Homo sapiens: one gene and its partner. The protein of the gene in region 1 interacts with the protein of each later gene in a pairwise test. Each region holds a gene or a part of one and is shown in the gene's direction. Other genes may lie near its edges.

Region 1 (7,996 bases):
ACTATATTTATAAAAATAGAGTCGTGAGATTTCCAATGGGCATAAAAGCTTAAGAACAAAGTGAGTTTCTGGGGTTTTTTTGTTTTTGTTTTTGTTTTTTTGTTTGGTCTTTTTTTGATGGAGTCTTGCTCTGTCGCCCAGGCTCAAGTGCAGTGGTGCGATCACACACCACAACCTCCGTCTCCCGGGTTCAGGTGATTCTCCTGCTTCAGCCTCCCAAGTAGCTAGGATCACAGGTGTGTGCCACCACACCCAGCTAATATAGATATATATAATTTTTTGGTATTTTTAGTAGAGGCAGGGTTTCACTATGTTGGCCAGGCTGGTCTCAAATTCCTGACCTCAGGTGATCCACCGCCTTGGCCTCCCAAGGTGCTGGGATTACAGGGTGAACCACTGCGCCTGGCCAAGAACAAAGTGAGATTTCTTTCCTTTTTTTTTTTTTTTTTGAGAGGAAGTCTCGATCTTGTCCCCCAGGCTGGAGTGCAATGGCGTGATCTTGGCTCACTGCAACCTCTGCCTCCCAGGTTCAAGCGATTCTCCTGCCTCAGCCCCCCAAGTAGCTGGCATTACAGGTGCCTGCCACCATGCCCGGCTAATTTTTTCTATTTTTAGTAGAGACGGGGTTTCACCCTATTGGCCAGGCTGGTCTCGAACTCCTGACCTCAGGTGATCCGCCCGCCTCGGCCTCCCAAAGTGTTGGGATTATAGGCATGAGCCACCGTGCCCAGCCAAAGTGAGATTTCTAAGTGTCATTTTCATCATCAGAATGTTGATTTACAAAAAGCAGCCCCAGAATTACCTTCACTGTGTATAAAAAATAACCAAAATGTGACCAACAAATGACATTCATGGAGCCTGAATTTTAAATCTCTACAACCACCTAGTGTGCAATTAGCTACTTTTCATCTAAATTATTTCCTAAAAGAGGCATAAAGTAAGAAAAATCAGTCTACTCCCTCTTCTTTATTTTGAGACAAAAGAACCTCGGTGGCTAGTCAATGCTCAGCAGTGGCCAGGCCCAGTGGCTCATGCCTGTAATCCCAGCACTTTGGGAGGCTAAGGCAGGCAGATCGCTTGACTCCAGGAGTTCAACACCAGCCTAGGCAACATCGTAAAACCCTCTCTCTACAAAAAATACACAATTAGCCAGGCATGGTGGCGTGTGTCTGTAGCCCCAGCTACTCGGGAGGCTGAGGTGGTGAGCCCAGGAGGTTTAAGCTTGGAAGATTGAGGCTGCAGTGAGCGGAGACTGCACCACTGCACTCCAGCCTGGGTGACAGAGTGAGACCCCCATCTCAAAAACAAAACAAAACAAAACAAAACAAAAAAATGGTCAGGAGTGACACTGGCCAGTGGCTTCCTGGAACTAGAAGAGAGGCCACTATTTCCTGGACACCAGGAAACTTAATTGAGGAGGTGGTTAGATAGGTCTCCACAGTTCTCAAAATCAGTGAACTATACCTTTAATATCTGCATCTTTTATTTTATGGGAAGGATACCTTGATAGAAAGACTATTGAGAAATATATACATTTATTATTATTATTATTATTATTATTATTATTATATATACTTTTTGAGACAGAGTCTTGTTCTTTTTGCCCAGGCTAAAGCGCAATGGAGCTATCTTGGCTCACTACAATTTCTGCCTCCTGGGTTCAAGCAATTCTCCTGCCTCGGCCTCTCGAGTAGCTGGGAATGCAGGTGTGCACCACCACACCCGGCCTACATTAACTATTTAAAATTGAAAAAAGGTGACCAGGTGCGTTGGTTCACACTTGCAATCACAGCACTTTGGGAGGCTGAGGCAGGTGGATCACCTGAGGTCAGGAGTTCAAGGCCAGTCTGGCCAACATGGTGAAACCCCGTCTCTACTAAAAATACAAAAAGTAGCCAGGCGTGGTGGCAGGCACCTGAAATCCCAGCTACTTGGGAGGCTGAGGCAGGAGAATCACTTGAACCTGGAAGGCAGAGGTTGCAGTGAGCCAAGATCAAACCACTGCACTCCTGCCTGGGCAACAGAGCGAGACTCTGTCTCAAAAAACGAGAAAGAAAAAGAAAAAAGGCTCACGAAAATATTATTTCAGGCCAGGCGCAGTGGCTCACACCTGTAATCCCAACACTTTGGGAGGCCGAGGAGGGCAGATCACGAGGTCAGGAGTTCGAGACCAGCCTGACCAACATGGCGAAACCCTGTCTCTACTAAAAATACAAAAATTAGGCCAGGCGCGGTGGCTTATGCCTGTAATCCCAGCACTTTGGGAGGCCGAGGCGGGCGGATCATGAGGTCAGGAGACCGAGACCATCCTGGCTAATACAGTGAAACCCCGTCTCTACCAAAAATGCAAAAAATTAGCTGGGCGTGGTGGCGGGAGCCTGTAGTCCCAGCTACTCAGGAGGCTGAGGCAGGAGAATGGCGTGAACCAGGGAGGCGGAGCTTGCAGTGAGCCGAAATGGTGCCACTGCACTCCAGCCTGGGCGGCAGAGCAAGACTCTGTCTCAAAAAAAACCAAAAACAAACAAACAAAAAAATTAGCCAGGCATGTTGGTGGGTGCCTGTAATCCCAGCTACTCAGGAGGCTGAGGCCAAAGAATCACTTCAACCCGGGAGGTGGAGGTTGCAGCGAGCCGAGATCGCACCACTGCACTCCAGCCTGGGTGACAGGGTGAGCCTCTGTCTCAAAAAAAAAACAAAAGAAAAAAAAAACAAAAGAAAATATTGTTTCACAACTGATGAGAAACATAACCAACACTAATGAATAAGAGCCCATCGAGGATGCATATCTCAGTTACAGGAAAGGAGCCAGCCTTTTAGACTGGTAACAGATTGACTGCAACCATTTGACCAATCACTTAAGGCAAGTTGGGACTTGCACGTTGGTTGGGTGTGAAGTCATATCCAGCCACAGTGAAGAAATAGAAATAAATAAAAAGATGTTCTTGGGAAACAATAGCAAGGTACAGAATGATGTATCAAGTAATGTAAGGAGTGTCTTTTCTTTTTGTGGACTGAGGTCTCACTGTGTTGCCCAGGCTGGAGAGCTGTGGTGTGATCATAGCTCCCTGCAGCCTCTGATCTCCTGGGCTCAAGCAATTCTCCTGCCTCAGCCTCCCAAGTAGCTGGAATTACAGGCAGATGTGCGCCAACCCACTGGGCTATTTTATTTTATTTTTATTTTTTGTAGTGATGAGGTCTTGCTGTGTTGCCCAGGCGAGAGTGTCTTCTTTAGAATGGTCAATAATGTTAGAACAATGGAGTCCACCATTCAGGGGAACATTCTCGGGAACTAACTGAGCTGGGCTGGTGGTATGATCACCGGACACCCTGCTATCCTCTCTGTCCGTGCCCATGACATGTCCTTGGCACAAAGACCCCTCTGGAGCTGAGGGGCTGGCCTCTTCCTTGACTGAGAGGTGGCCCCTGTCTAAGCCTCAGTTTTGTCCTCTGCAGAATGGGGGTGCTTGCAGCCCCTACTGAAATGCAGCTGCTAGCCTCCCTCTCTGAGCTCATGTTCCCAAGAACTGGTCCCTGAGCTTGGTGCCTTGGAGTGTGTGGGGAGGGGGCGAGAGGCTGGGGGCCTGGGACGCAGAGGGTGGAGGATGGTTCTGGGTCTGCTGTCTCCACCCAAACTTTCCACTGCCAGCCTGCCTCTGCCCAGGCCTCTCAGCAGCCTGCTGGGTGGGGCAGGAGCTGGAGTGGCGAGTGGAAAAGGTCCAGGAGGGCTGCTGGGCTGCTAGGAGTGGTTTCTGCTCAGCTCCCACACCATCCCTGCCTTTCAGAAGCATCTTTCAGCCCTACCCGCCCCTCCACCAAGCCAATTCCCCAACCCTGAGTTCTCTTGCAGAGTCTTAGGCCCAAGGGGGCTGTTTCGGGCCTGGCGGGAGGGTCCCCGCCTTGCTCTGCTTTTGATCTAGGTGGTGATGGAATGCTAGGCCACCCACCACCCCAAAACCCACCTCATCCTGACCTACAAACTTGGTGGCATGATGGTAGCAGTCCTGGAAGGAGGAAGAAGAGAGACTTGAAGGAGAGAAGTGGGACAGGAATATGTGGTAGACAGAGTTAGGGGCAGAGACGGACAGAGTGAGACAGCCAGCCCCAGAGACAGAACCCACAGGAGAGGTGCGAGCAGAGGTGAGGAGAGCCAGAGGTCAGGGCAACGGGTCCTGCACGCTCCTGCCTTTGGCAAATCGCTTCCCATCCCAGCTTCAGCCTCCTCCTCTGTACAATGGGGGTGACCCATACTCCTCCCTGTTGGAATGATGGGGTCCCAATCAGTGATTTCCTGCATCTCCTGGGCAGCCGAGGGGCCTTGGAAATGACAGGCATAGTCCTAGTGGATCCCCTCCTTTCACCCCTCCTGACTGAGGACTTCCATGAACTGGGCACACTCCAGGACCCAGGGGTGCAGCGCTGAGGGGATCAGGCAGGCCCCCTGTGAACCCATGAAGCCACCCTGTCAGTCACTAGTGCTCCTATTGTGGCCGCTGTTCCATTACAGAGGCAGAAGCTTAGATTTCAGCACGGATCAGTCCAGGCAGGAGGTTCTCAGCTGGAGAGAAGGGTCTGGAGTTCCCACCCAGATTGGCCTCCCAGGACCTAATATGTCTGTGTATAAAATAAGAGAAATTACTAACAAATAAATACATGAAATGAGATAGAGGCTCTCCGTGTGCCAGGCAGCGGGAAGACAGGGGTGGAGGGGCAGTGGCACAAGGAGCCTTCTCTGCTGTGAGTTTATTACTATTAAACATTCCCTCTTATTATCAGCTCCTAGGAGAGGGGCAGTGCACCCGGGCCCTGGGTGATGGGGGGATCAGGGCCCCCAAGAAGAGGTGCCACTCCCGCTTCGCCGGGCTTGCCCCAGGGCCAGGGTCCGTGCCAGGTGTGGGTGGTGGGTGGGAAGGGGTGGGGTGAGTCATCAGGGCCAGCCCCGCCCTGCTTTTATTTAAGGTCCCCAGCAGGCCCCACCACCACGGCTGCCCAACCCGGTCCCAGCCATGTCCGTGAGTGCTCCAGGGGCCCGGGGCGGGGCCAAGCAGGGAGGGGGCTGGGGGCTCCTCTTTCAAAGGAGCAAGTGGGCAGTGAGTGTGCCACGGACTGGCCTGGGCTGTGGCCTCCGGGTAACCCCCATCCCGACTGTCCCCTCTACCTCTTTGTGGCTTCCTCTGGGGCCCTCTTTGAGGATCTTTCTGTTTGTCTTTGTTGCTCTCCCCATCTGTTTCCCTGTCTGTTTCTGGTCTCTTTCCTGCCTCTCCGCCACCCTTTCCTCTTCCACTGATTTCTGCCAGTCTCAGCCCTGGTCGGCTCCTCTGAGGGGTGACCCACCTTCTGCCTCCCTCCTTCGGTCTCACCGGCTCACAGTGGCCCCTGCACCCCACTCTTGCAGAACGTCCCCCACAAGTCCTCACTGCCCGAGGGCATCCGCCCTGGCACGGTGCTGAGAATTCGCGGCTTGGTTCCTCCCAATGCCAGCAGGTGAGGCCCCAGGCCCTAGGGGTAAAGGGTACAGGTCTCAGGATCAGCTGACTCCCAATTTTTGCAGTCCAGAAGTAGGGGCCCGAGGCCACCTGTATCCACCAGGCTAGGAGTCCGAGGCCATTTCTGACCTCAAATCTGATGTATTCGTATTTGCCCCCGTGCCTTTGTGGCTGGGGTCCCTAAGTTTCCCTAAGCATTTGAGGTCCCTGGGTAATCTCAGGGTTCCTAGATATAGTCCTATGACTTCCATGTCTGAGTCCCAGGGAACTCTGGAAATACTCCAAGTCCTGGAGACACCCTGGACCCTGGGAGTCCTTGCCAAGCCATCCTTTGACTTCCTGGCTAAGGAACTTCGGGCCTTCTGGATTCTGAGGTACCCTGGAAATACTGGGGTTCCTGGTATTATTCTTTGTCCTGTAGAAGCTGAGGGTTCCCTGAGCATCAGGAGCACCCTGGCTATCACCCAGACCTCCTGGGCAGCTCCCAGGCTCTTTGGAAATGAGGGCACCCTGCCCTAAGCGTAGTGAGTTTGGTCTGGGTAGGTTTCTGCCAAGGGCCTCATGATATTTTGGCTGCCTTGGGAATCTAAGCTCCCTGGTCATTAGTCGCCTACCTCTCCTTCTGCGGTGTGTGCCTGTCTTCAGGTCCCTGTTAATTTGGGGGTACTCTGGGAATGGGGAGTGCCAGTCCATAAGACCTTCACTTTGGTCTGGGCGGTTTATGTTTTGTTTGTTCTTTCGTTTTTTTGTAAGGTGGGGTCTCGCTATGTTGCCCAGGCTGGTCTTTAACTTCCGGGCCCAAGCGATCCTCCCTTCTCCACCTCCCAGAGTGCTGGGATTACAGGGTGAGCCACTGCACCCAGCCAACATTTCATTTACTTATTCATTCAAAGTAAATTGTAGACATCGGTATTCCTCACCCTCAACATTTCTTGGTCTGGGTGGTTTCTGAGCCCTGACGGCCACCATCCTCCTCTTCCAGGTTCCATGTAAACCTGCTGTGCGGGGAGGAGCAGGGCTCCGATGCCGCGCTGCATTTCAACCCCCGGCTGGACACGTCGGAGGTGGTCTTCAACAGCAAGGAGCAAGGCTCCTGGGGCCGCGAGGAGCGCGGGCCGGGCGTTCCTTTCCAGCGCGGGCAGCCCTTCGAGGTGCTCATCATCGCGTCAGACGACGGCTTCAAGGTGCGTCTCTGCGACAGGGGCGTGGACGCCAAGACTTAGGTCCCTGGAGCAGAGGGTTGGGCAAAGCCAGGCTATTGGTGGAAGGCAGGGAGGTTCGGGGCGGGGTGAGGGGGGTAGGGAAGTCGTGGCCAAGGCGGAGAAGGGTGTCCTTCGACCCTCTCTCTCGCCTAAACAACTCCCACTTGGGTCCGAGGGACAGAGAGACAGCAGGGTCAGGACGAGGCGAGCACCAGCCAAGTGTCCAAGGGGTGGGCGTCCTAGCGGGAAGGCGTGGCCCAGACTCGCCATCCCAGACCCTACTCCCAGTTCATTCCTTCCTGAGGTCCGGGGTTTGAGGCATGGGGAGGGATGGGTTGGAAACAGCGCCCAGGAACTCGTCCTAGCAAGGATTGGCGGGTGGGAGTGGCGGCAGATCCTCCACCACCCACAGCTTACGCGAATTCACCTCCCTCCTCTGCGCTTTAATAGCGGGTAATGGTCGCTGAAATGAGAATATCCATTACCAGCACTAAAAAAGCCTCTTTTTACTGTGCCACACAGTCAACTCGTTTGATCCTCACGCAAGAGTTAGAATGAACAATAGCCCCATTTTCCCAGTGAGGAAACTGAGGCCCAGAGGGGATGAGTGATTTCCCCAGGGCCACCCAGCACGGGCCTCCGGAATCCTCACCACCGACCCTCCCCTGCAGGCCGTGGTTGGGGACGCCCAGTACCACCACTTCCGCCACCGCCTGCCGCTGGCGCGCGTGCGCCTGGTGGAGGTGGGCGGGGACGTGCAGCTGGACTCCGTGAGGATCTTCTGAGCAGAAGCCCAGGCGGGCCCGGGGCCTTGGCTGGCAAATAAAGCGTTAGCCCGCAGCGCGACTGTGTCTGTGTCCCATTCACTGAGATGAGCAAACTGAGACCCAGAGAGGCCAAGATACTGGCTCCGGGCCACACAGCGAATCCGAGGCGGAGGCGGGCTCTGAGCCTGCCTGTGCTTAGGACACTTTCTGTCTGCGAAGGCGTGAGGGTCGCGATCTGGGAAGGAGTGGGTGTGGGGCGTGCCCTGACGCAGCATTTGTGCAAAGCAAGCCAGCTGGGAATGCGGTCGGGCGGACCTGCTGGCGTTTGGGGCGCAGAGGCGCTCACCGCAGGTCCTGGTGCCCCCACTGCAGATCTAAGGGGCGCCAACATGGGTCCATCTGCAAAGGGGGCGAATGAGTCCCACCTTTCTGGTCATTTGTGGGCCCCAATCCTACGGGTGGAAAGCGTGTTATAAGATCCCGGGTCCCTGGGTCCCGTATCCCCCTGCAGCTCATCTCTCCCACCCTCTTCTCTCCTGGCCTC
Region 2 (7,023 bases), on another chromosome or scaffold:
ATTACCATGGTGTGTTTTCTTCCTAGCACGTAGCGCTGTCTGAGATTGCCTTATTATTGTATTGTGTGTTTGAATTCTCTCTCTCCCTAGAAGGGAGGCTTCAAATAAGGAGCCTCTCTGTTTTCTCTTCTGTGTCCGCAGTACCCAGAATACTGCCAGACTGTTGCAAATGCTCAGCAGATATTTATTGAAAGAATGTATGTAGTGATTTAATGTACTGTAATCACATAATATCATATGTGGGTCCGGAAGACCTAAGTTCCCATTTATGTTAAGAGAGGCATTAATTTTGCTTTAAAATGAAACAGTTCAAGATTAGAACTAGACCCAATTTTGTGTTACTGTGAAGCCGTTTTTCTTCTTCTTTTTGAGACTGAGTCTCACTCTGTCATCCAGGCTGGAGTGCAGTGGTGTGATCTCAGCTCACTGCAACCTCCACCTCCTGCATTCAAGTGATTCTCCTGCCTCAGCCTCCTGAGTAGTTGGAATTACAGGTGCGCACCACCACGCCTGGCTAATTTTTGTATTTTTAGTAGAGACAGGATTTTGCCACATTGCCCAGGCTAGTCTCAAACTCCTGACCTCAAGTGATCCACCTGCCTCAGCCTCCCCAAGTGCTGGGATTACAGGCGTGAGCCACTGTGCCAGGTCAGCAGTTTTTCTTTTGGCGTTGCTTGTACTGAAAGTGTTAAATTTAAGCCTGGTGTCATGAGGAGCTGAGCAGAATTGTTGCCATTTCTACTTTTTTTTTTTTTTAATTTAGTTGTGACATACTTGGCTCAGCTAGCACTTACTGCCATTTCATCTTCCTTTTTTTTTTCATTTCCATTAGTAGGGTTTGGTTATACTGTCTATTTTCAAAGGCTATTAGAAGGCGTTAGTAGCTTTTCAGACCTTGTAGTAAAATTGTGTTAATAAAAATAAATAAATAAAAGTCACCCAGTGAAGACATAAATAAGTGTAGAGACACACCATGTTAATGGATTAGAAGACTCAACATAGTGACAATGTCTACTTTCCCCAAATTGATCTGTAGATTTAAAGCAGTTCCAATAAAAATCCCAACAAGACTTGTGGATATAAGTAAGCTGATTCTAAAATTTATATGAAAAGGCAAAGGAACTCAAATAGCCAAAACAATTTTGAAAAAGAGCAAGAAGATAAGGAGACTCACACTAGCCAATTTAAAGACTTACTATAAAGCTACAGTAATCAAGAATGTAGTATTGGTGGAGGGGTAGACACATCGATCACAGGAACAGAATAGAGTCTAGAAGTAGACCCACACAATTCAATGGAGAAAAGCTAGTCTTTTCAACAAATGGTGTTGGAATGATTGGATATTGGAATGAAAAAAAAAATGGACCTAAACCTCCTTCCTACCTTACACAGAAATTAATTCAAAATGGATCACAGATCTAAATGTAAAATATAAAACTATAAAACTTTTAGAAAAAAACATAGGTGCTCTTTGTAACTTGGGACTGGACAGAGAGTTCTTAAACATGACTCCAAAAGCATGAACCATGAAAGAGAAAAAATGGATTAAATGGACTTCATCTAAACTAAAACCTTTGCTCTGCAAAAGACACTACTGAGTGAAATGCTAAGTTACAAATAAAAAGAACTCTCAGAACACAATAGTTAAGAAAATAACCTAATTTAAAAATAGGCAAAAAACTTGCACTTCACCAAAGAGGATGAGTTGGTGCCAAATAAACACGTGAAAGATACTCAGTGTCGTTAGCCGTTAGGAAGTGCAGATTAAAGTCACGATGAGCTACCACTACCCACCTCTTAGAATATCTAAATTCAGAAAAAGACAATACCACATGGTGGCAAGGACGTGGAGCAGCCGGAACTCAACATTGGAAATGCAAATGGTTCAGCTGCTCTGGAAAACAGTTTGGCAGGTTCTTATAAAGTTAAACATATACTTACCATATGAGCCAGCCCTGTCACTCCTAGGTATTTACCCTGGATAAATGAAAAGTTACATTCATACAAAAACCTGTACATGAATGTTTATAGCATATTTCTTCATAGTTATAAGAAACGAAACAGCCCAAATGTCCTTCAGTGGATGAATGGATAAACAAACTTTACTACATCCGAACAATGGTATATTACTCTATGAAAGAGAGAGAGAGACTGTTGATGCACACAGGCTAACAACTTGGATGAGTCTTAGAGACATAATGTTGAGTGAAAGAAGCCAGTCTCAGGAGGTCATGTTTACTGCATCATTTCATTTATGTGACATTGTGTGACATTGTTTTGTTTTGTTTTGTTTTGTTTGGAGACAGAGTCTCACTCCGTCGCCCAGGCTGGAGTGCAGTGGTGTGCAATCTCGGCTCATGGCAACCTCTGCCTCTCAGGTTCAGGTGATTCTCGTGCCTCAGCCTCTTGAGTAGCTGGAATTACAGGTGTGCGCCACCACGCCCGGCTGATTTTTGTATTTTCAGTAGAGACAGGGTTTCGCCACATTGGCCAGGCTGGTCTCAAATTCCTGGCCTCAAGTGATGAGCCCCTCTTGGCCTCCTAAAGTGCTGGGATTACAGGCGTGAGCCACTGCACCTGGCGTTTAATATGACATTCTTAAAAAGACAAAGCCATAGCAGTGGAAAATAGGTTGCCAGGGATTAGGGGAGGGAGTGCGTTGGGAGTGGAGCTGCCCTGTATCCTGAGAGTGGTGGTAGTTACACACATCTCTACATGTGTCAACATTCACAGATGTGCGTGCCCCAGAAGCCAGTTTTACTCCATGTTAATGTAAAAATAAAACAAACTCCCACACCCTGCAGAAGTTGCTCCAGGGTGCAAAATGTAGAGCTGAAGCACCAAAATAGATAAAAGCAGAATAAAACCAATTATATGAAAAAAAGTGAAGTCACTCCTGTCAGTATATAACTAAACAGAAGCTACAATTTGCCACAAAAGCTAACCACAGGCTTTTTATATATATGATTGCAAAAGCCTGTTGAAGTGGTTTCCACATCCTTTCTGGAAGACTTAACAATAACTTTTAAGAAGTTGCACACAGTATCTGTGTGTGTTTTATTTCTTTTACAGATGATTCACTGTTGGCATATAGAAATGCTACTGATTTTTGTATGTTGATTCCATATCCTGCAACTTTTTTTTTTTTTTTTTTTTTTGAGATGGAGTCTTTTTTTGAGATGGAGTCTCGCTCTGTCACCCAGGCTGGAGTGCAGTTGCACGATCTCGGCTCACTGCAAGCTCCGCCTCCCGGGTTCATGCCATTCTCCTGCCTCAGCCTCCAGAGTAGCTGGGACTACAGGCGCCCGCCACCACACCCGGCTAGTTTTTTGTATTTTTAGTAGAGATAGGGTTTCACCATGTTAGCCAGGATGGTCTCGATCTTCTGACCTCATGATCCACCTGCCTCAGCCTCCCAAAGTGCTGGGATTACAGGCTTGAGCCACCGCGCCCGGCCCATATCCTGCCACTTTACTGAATTTGTTTAATCAGTTCTAATAGTTTTTTGGTGGAATCTAGGTTTTTCCAAATATAAGATTATATCGTCTGCAAACAAGGATCATTTAACATCTTCCTTGCCAGTTTGGATGCCCTCTATTTCTTTCTCTTATCTGGTTGCTCTAGCTTGTGTTTGTTTAATATTTCAATAAAGCTTTCAATACAATTTTTTTTTTTTTGAGACAGAATCTCACTCTTGTCGCCCAGGCTAGAGTGCAGTGGCATGATCTCAGCTCGCTGCAACCTCCGACTCCTGGGTTTAAGCGATTCTCCTGCCTCAGCCTCCCCAGTAGCTGGGATTACAGGCATGCACCACCATGCCTGGCTAATTTTTTTGTGTTTTTAACAGAGACAGAGATGGGGTTTCACCAGGTTGGCTAGGCCGGTCTCAAATTTCTGACATCAAATGGTCCACCCACCTCAGCTTCCCAAAGTGCTGGGATTACGGGCGTGAGCCACTGCACCCAGCCAATACAAATTTTATTTTCCTTGAAATTGAACTGTGGTTCTCCCAGTTATTCCAGTTTGCTGTAGTTCTGCATGGTGGTTCTGGGAGTGCCGTTGTGAACAAAGCGCAGTTTTCAGGTGGGAGGCCAGATTTGGGGCAAGCTTTCAGGGAGAGGCAGGGAATTGCACCTGGGCCTTGCATCAAAGTTGTTCCTGGGGCTTAAAAAGTACAGATGCTCAGGATGTACCCTAGGGAGATCTGGGAAATTCAGAAATTGTGTTTAGGCCGGGGATGGGGCCAGGGCCTGGACCGCTGTGTGAGCGTGTTTAAAGCTCTGCAGTGATTATGCTGAACAGCCTGGTTTGAGATCCTATGGGGTAGAATGGGCATTGCAGACAGGCAGGGATGCTGGAATCAGGGTGCCGTTGGGGTACATGAGAGGGCCATCAGCCAGTCCTGGGTAGGGTCATCCTGAAGGAAGACCTCCTGGAGGTGGTGACTCCTGAGCCAAAGAGTCCCGAAGGACCCGGAGAATTGGTAGGGAAGAAGAGGGAGGGTGTTCATGTGGAGGCAAAGAGCAGGGGATGGACAGGGCTGTAGGCATTTGGGACTGGGAGGGAAGGATGTGGCAGGGGAGATGGGAGAGGACATCGGGGTGGCATGAGGATGTCCTATAAACTAGCTCATAAACTCCGACTTAAAAGCCAGTCTCAGTTACTCTCCCTGGTACTTGGAGGTCCCAGTGCCAGAGAGAGTGACTGAGGCTAGCTTATAAGTCGGAGTTTCTCCAGGCTGGGTCTTAGGTCACCTGAAAGCATCACCCATGGGGAGCGGCCTGCACTGCAGATGTCCCGGGCCCTGCCCAGATCAGTCATTCTGAGGGTGGGGCCTGCAGCCTGCAGTGTTGGTAACCAATGCTCAAGGGATTTCTTTGTAGTGTGCATTTGGAGCCAGTGCAGTAAGAGGTGGGGTCCCCAGAGTTTCCTGCCAAGAGTCTGCGACATTTGTGTGTGTTTCACTAGGTTTCATAACGGCTCACTCCTGGAGGTCATTGCTGCGCCTTACATTTGGGAATGGTGGAGTCTCAGTTTTCCTGGGAAACAAGTTTGTAGACTAGCCATAAAAACAGCAAACCCTTCTGCAGGTGTCTGTTCATACAAACATTATTGTTTTCCAGAAGGAAGTGGAACCCTCTGTGTAGGGCTGCGGGCCTGCTAGGTTTTTGTTGCAGAAGGAATAGGTGAAGTGGGGACTACCCTGCAGACGCGGTGGCGTCTCACGGCTTCCTGGTGTCCTTCCCCAGGAGCAGCAGCCAAGCTGGACAGATGACCTGCCTCTCTGCCACCTCTCTGGGGTTGGCTCAGCCTCCAACCGCAGCTACTCTGCTGATGGCAAGGGCACTGAGAGCCACCCGCCAGAGGACAGCTGGCTCAAGTTCAGGTGTGTGTGCCAGCATTTCTGTGTTGGGCCCGGGGAGTTGGTTGGTTTGCAAGCAAGGAAAGACACCGACCTTGCAGCTTTCTCGTATGGGCTTGCCAGTGACATGTGGCCCGTGAGAGGTGGCCTCTGCTGCTGTCTTGCCAAGGGCCTGCTCTGATGGGGTAGCGTGAGCATGGGGAGGAGGGTATCCCAGAATGTCATAGCCAGAGTGAAATGATGGCTAAAGCAGGGGGACCCAGGAGGGCCCCTGAAGCTGCAGCTGCTGTCGCTTTAGTCTCCCCCAATTCCTTTCCCTTTCTCCCTCCACCTCCGTGAGACCCTGGTCTCAGGCCTCCCTCTGCCCTCTCCCTCTTCCAGGAGTGAGAACAACTGCTTCCTGTATGGGGTCTTCAACGGCTATGATGGCAACCGAGTGACCAACTTCGTGGCCCAGCGGCTGTCCGCAGAGCTCCTGCTGGGCCAGCTGAATGCCGAGCACGCCGAGGCCGATGTGCGGCGTGTGCTGCTGCAGGTAATGGTGCCGGGGCCAACAGTGACCCAGCCACATCATGTCCCCCACCCCAAGGCTTGGGCCCTGCACCTCTAGCATGTTGCCAGGGTTGGTGTGAAGATCCTGCCGGCCCCTTCACCCCAGTAGAGGAGCAGCTCCCAGCGTAGGCCCCCCCACCCAACAGGAGTCCAGGACCAGCCAGCGAGCAGCAGGCCTTCAATGGCTGGCAGAGGAGGTACTGCTGGAGACGGGGGGATTTAGGGATGGGAGCTTGGAGAGAGGTGTGAGGTGGGAGCAGGGCAAGGCCTGGTAGAAATGGGGTCATTTAGAGCTACCCCTTTCTTTCCTATGTGGTCAGGTGCTCAGCCTCCAGGTGCAGGAGCCATCCCTGGGCGTCCAGGAAGGACCTTGCCTCCCCTTTCTGAGGGGCCGCCGCCCTCATTGACTGGTTCCACCTTTCTGCTTGCGCTGTTGGCAGTTTTCCTCCTGGCATCTGCTTTCAGGAGCATGTCTCAGGCCCATTTCAGATGAGAAGATGGGCTTCTGTTCCCGGAGAGGGGTGGTGCCAGCCTTTTCCTGCCCTTCACGACCTCAGGCTCCATTGCCAGTGATTCTCAGCAGATCTCACACAGGGGGAGAAGGTGTCAGTGTCACCAGTGTCCTGGGGCTGGTGGGGTTTGACAGAAGCCTCCCAGAAAGAAGTTGTAGTAATCATACGAGCTGTCATAGGCCTGGCAGTTTCTCTGAGCAGTTGCCTTGCTGAGTGCCAGGTTGGACTGTCTTACCTAACCCCTGGAACAACACTTAACCTCCGTTGTGTGAGACTGAGGGGGCCAGAGGTCACACCAGCTGGGCCTACGCCAAGCCTTTGCTCTTAGCTTCCGCACTGTCTCCTGCCTCCCAGCCGTCTGCAGTGCTGCCTCTGCAGGGTGCACACCCCTTCGAGGCTGAAGGGCTTTGTCAAAGACATTGATCTGCAGGAAGCAGCCGGTGCCTTGCAGTGCTGGGCCAGAGGCAGGACTGACATGTGGAAAGCTCCATCACACAAGAACCTGCAGTGAAGACAGCAAAGCTGCTGCTCTGATTAATAGAGGACATTTTGGCACCAGTGACAGTGGTGTTTTGAACCAGCCTTTGCCCTGTCCTG

What was found. Proteins that work in one complex are often made in the same cells at the same time.
Region 2: the proteins of LGALS7 (region 1) and TAB1 interact in binary tests that used the Homo sapiens proteins (3 or more experiments, as listed by UniProt).

Annotation. Positions count from the first base shown.
Region 1 is NC_000019.10:38,770,500-38,778,495, reverse strand, and holds LGALS7 (galectin-7), read left to right. Parts: upstream 1-4,978; 5' UTR 4,979-5,003; coding exon 5,004-5,009; intron 5,010-5,392; coding exon 5,393-5,481; intron 5,482-6,465; coding exon 6,466-6,667; intron 6,668-7,356; coding exon 7,357-7,470; 3' UTR 7,471-7,528; downstream 7,529-7,996. UniProt on the Homo sapiens protein: Could be involved in cell-cell and/or cell-matrix interactions necessary for normal growth control. Pro-apoptotic protein that functions intracellularly upstream of JNK activation and cytochrome c release.
Region 2 is NC_000022.11:39,409,757-39,416,779, forward strand, and holds part of TAB1 (TGF-beta-activated kinase 1 and MAP3K7-binding protein 1), read left to right. Parts: intron 1-5,249; coding exon 5,250-5,386; intron 5,387-5,743; coding exon 5,744-5,897; intron 5,898-7,023. UniProt on the Homo sapiens protein: Key adapter protein that plays an essential role in JNK and NF-kappa-B activation and proinflammatory cytokines production in response to stimulation with TLRs and cytokines.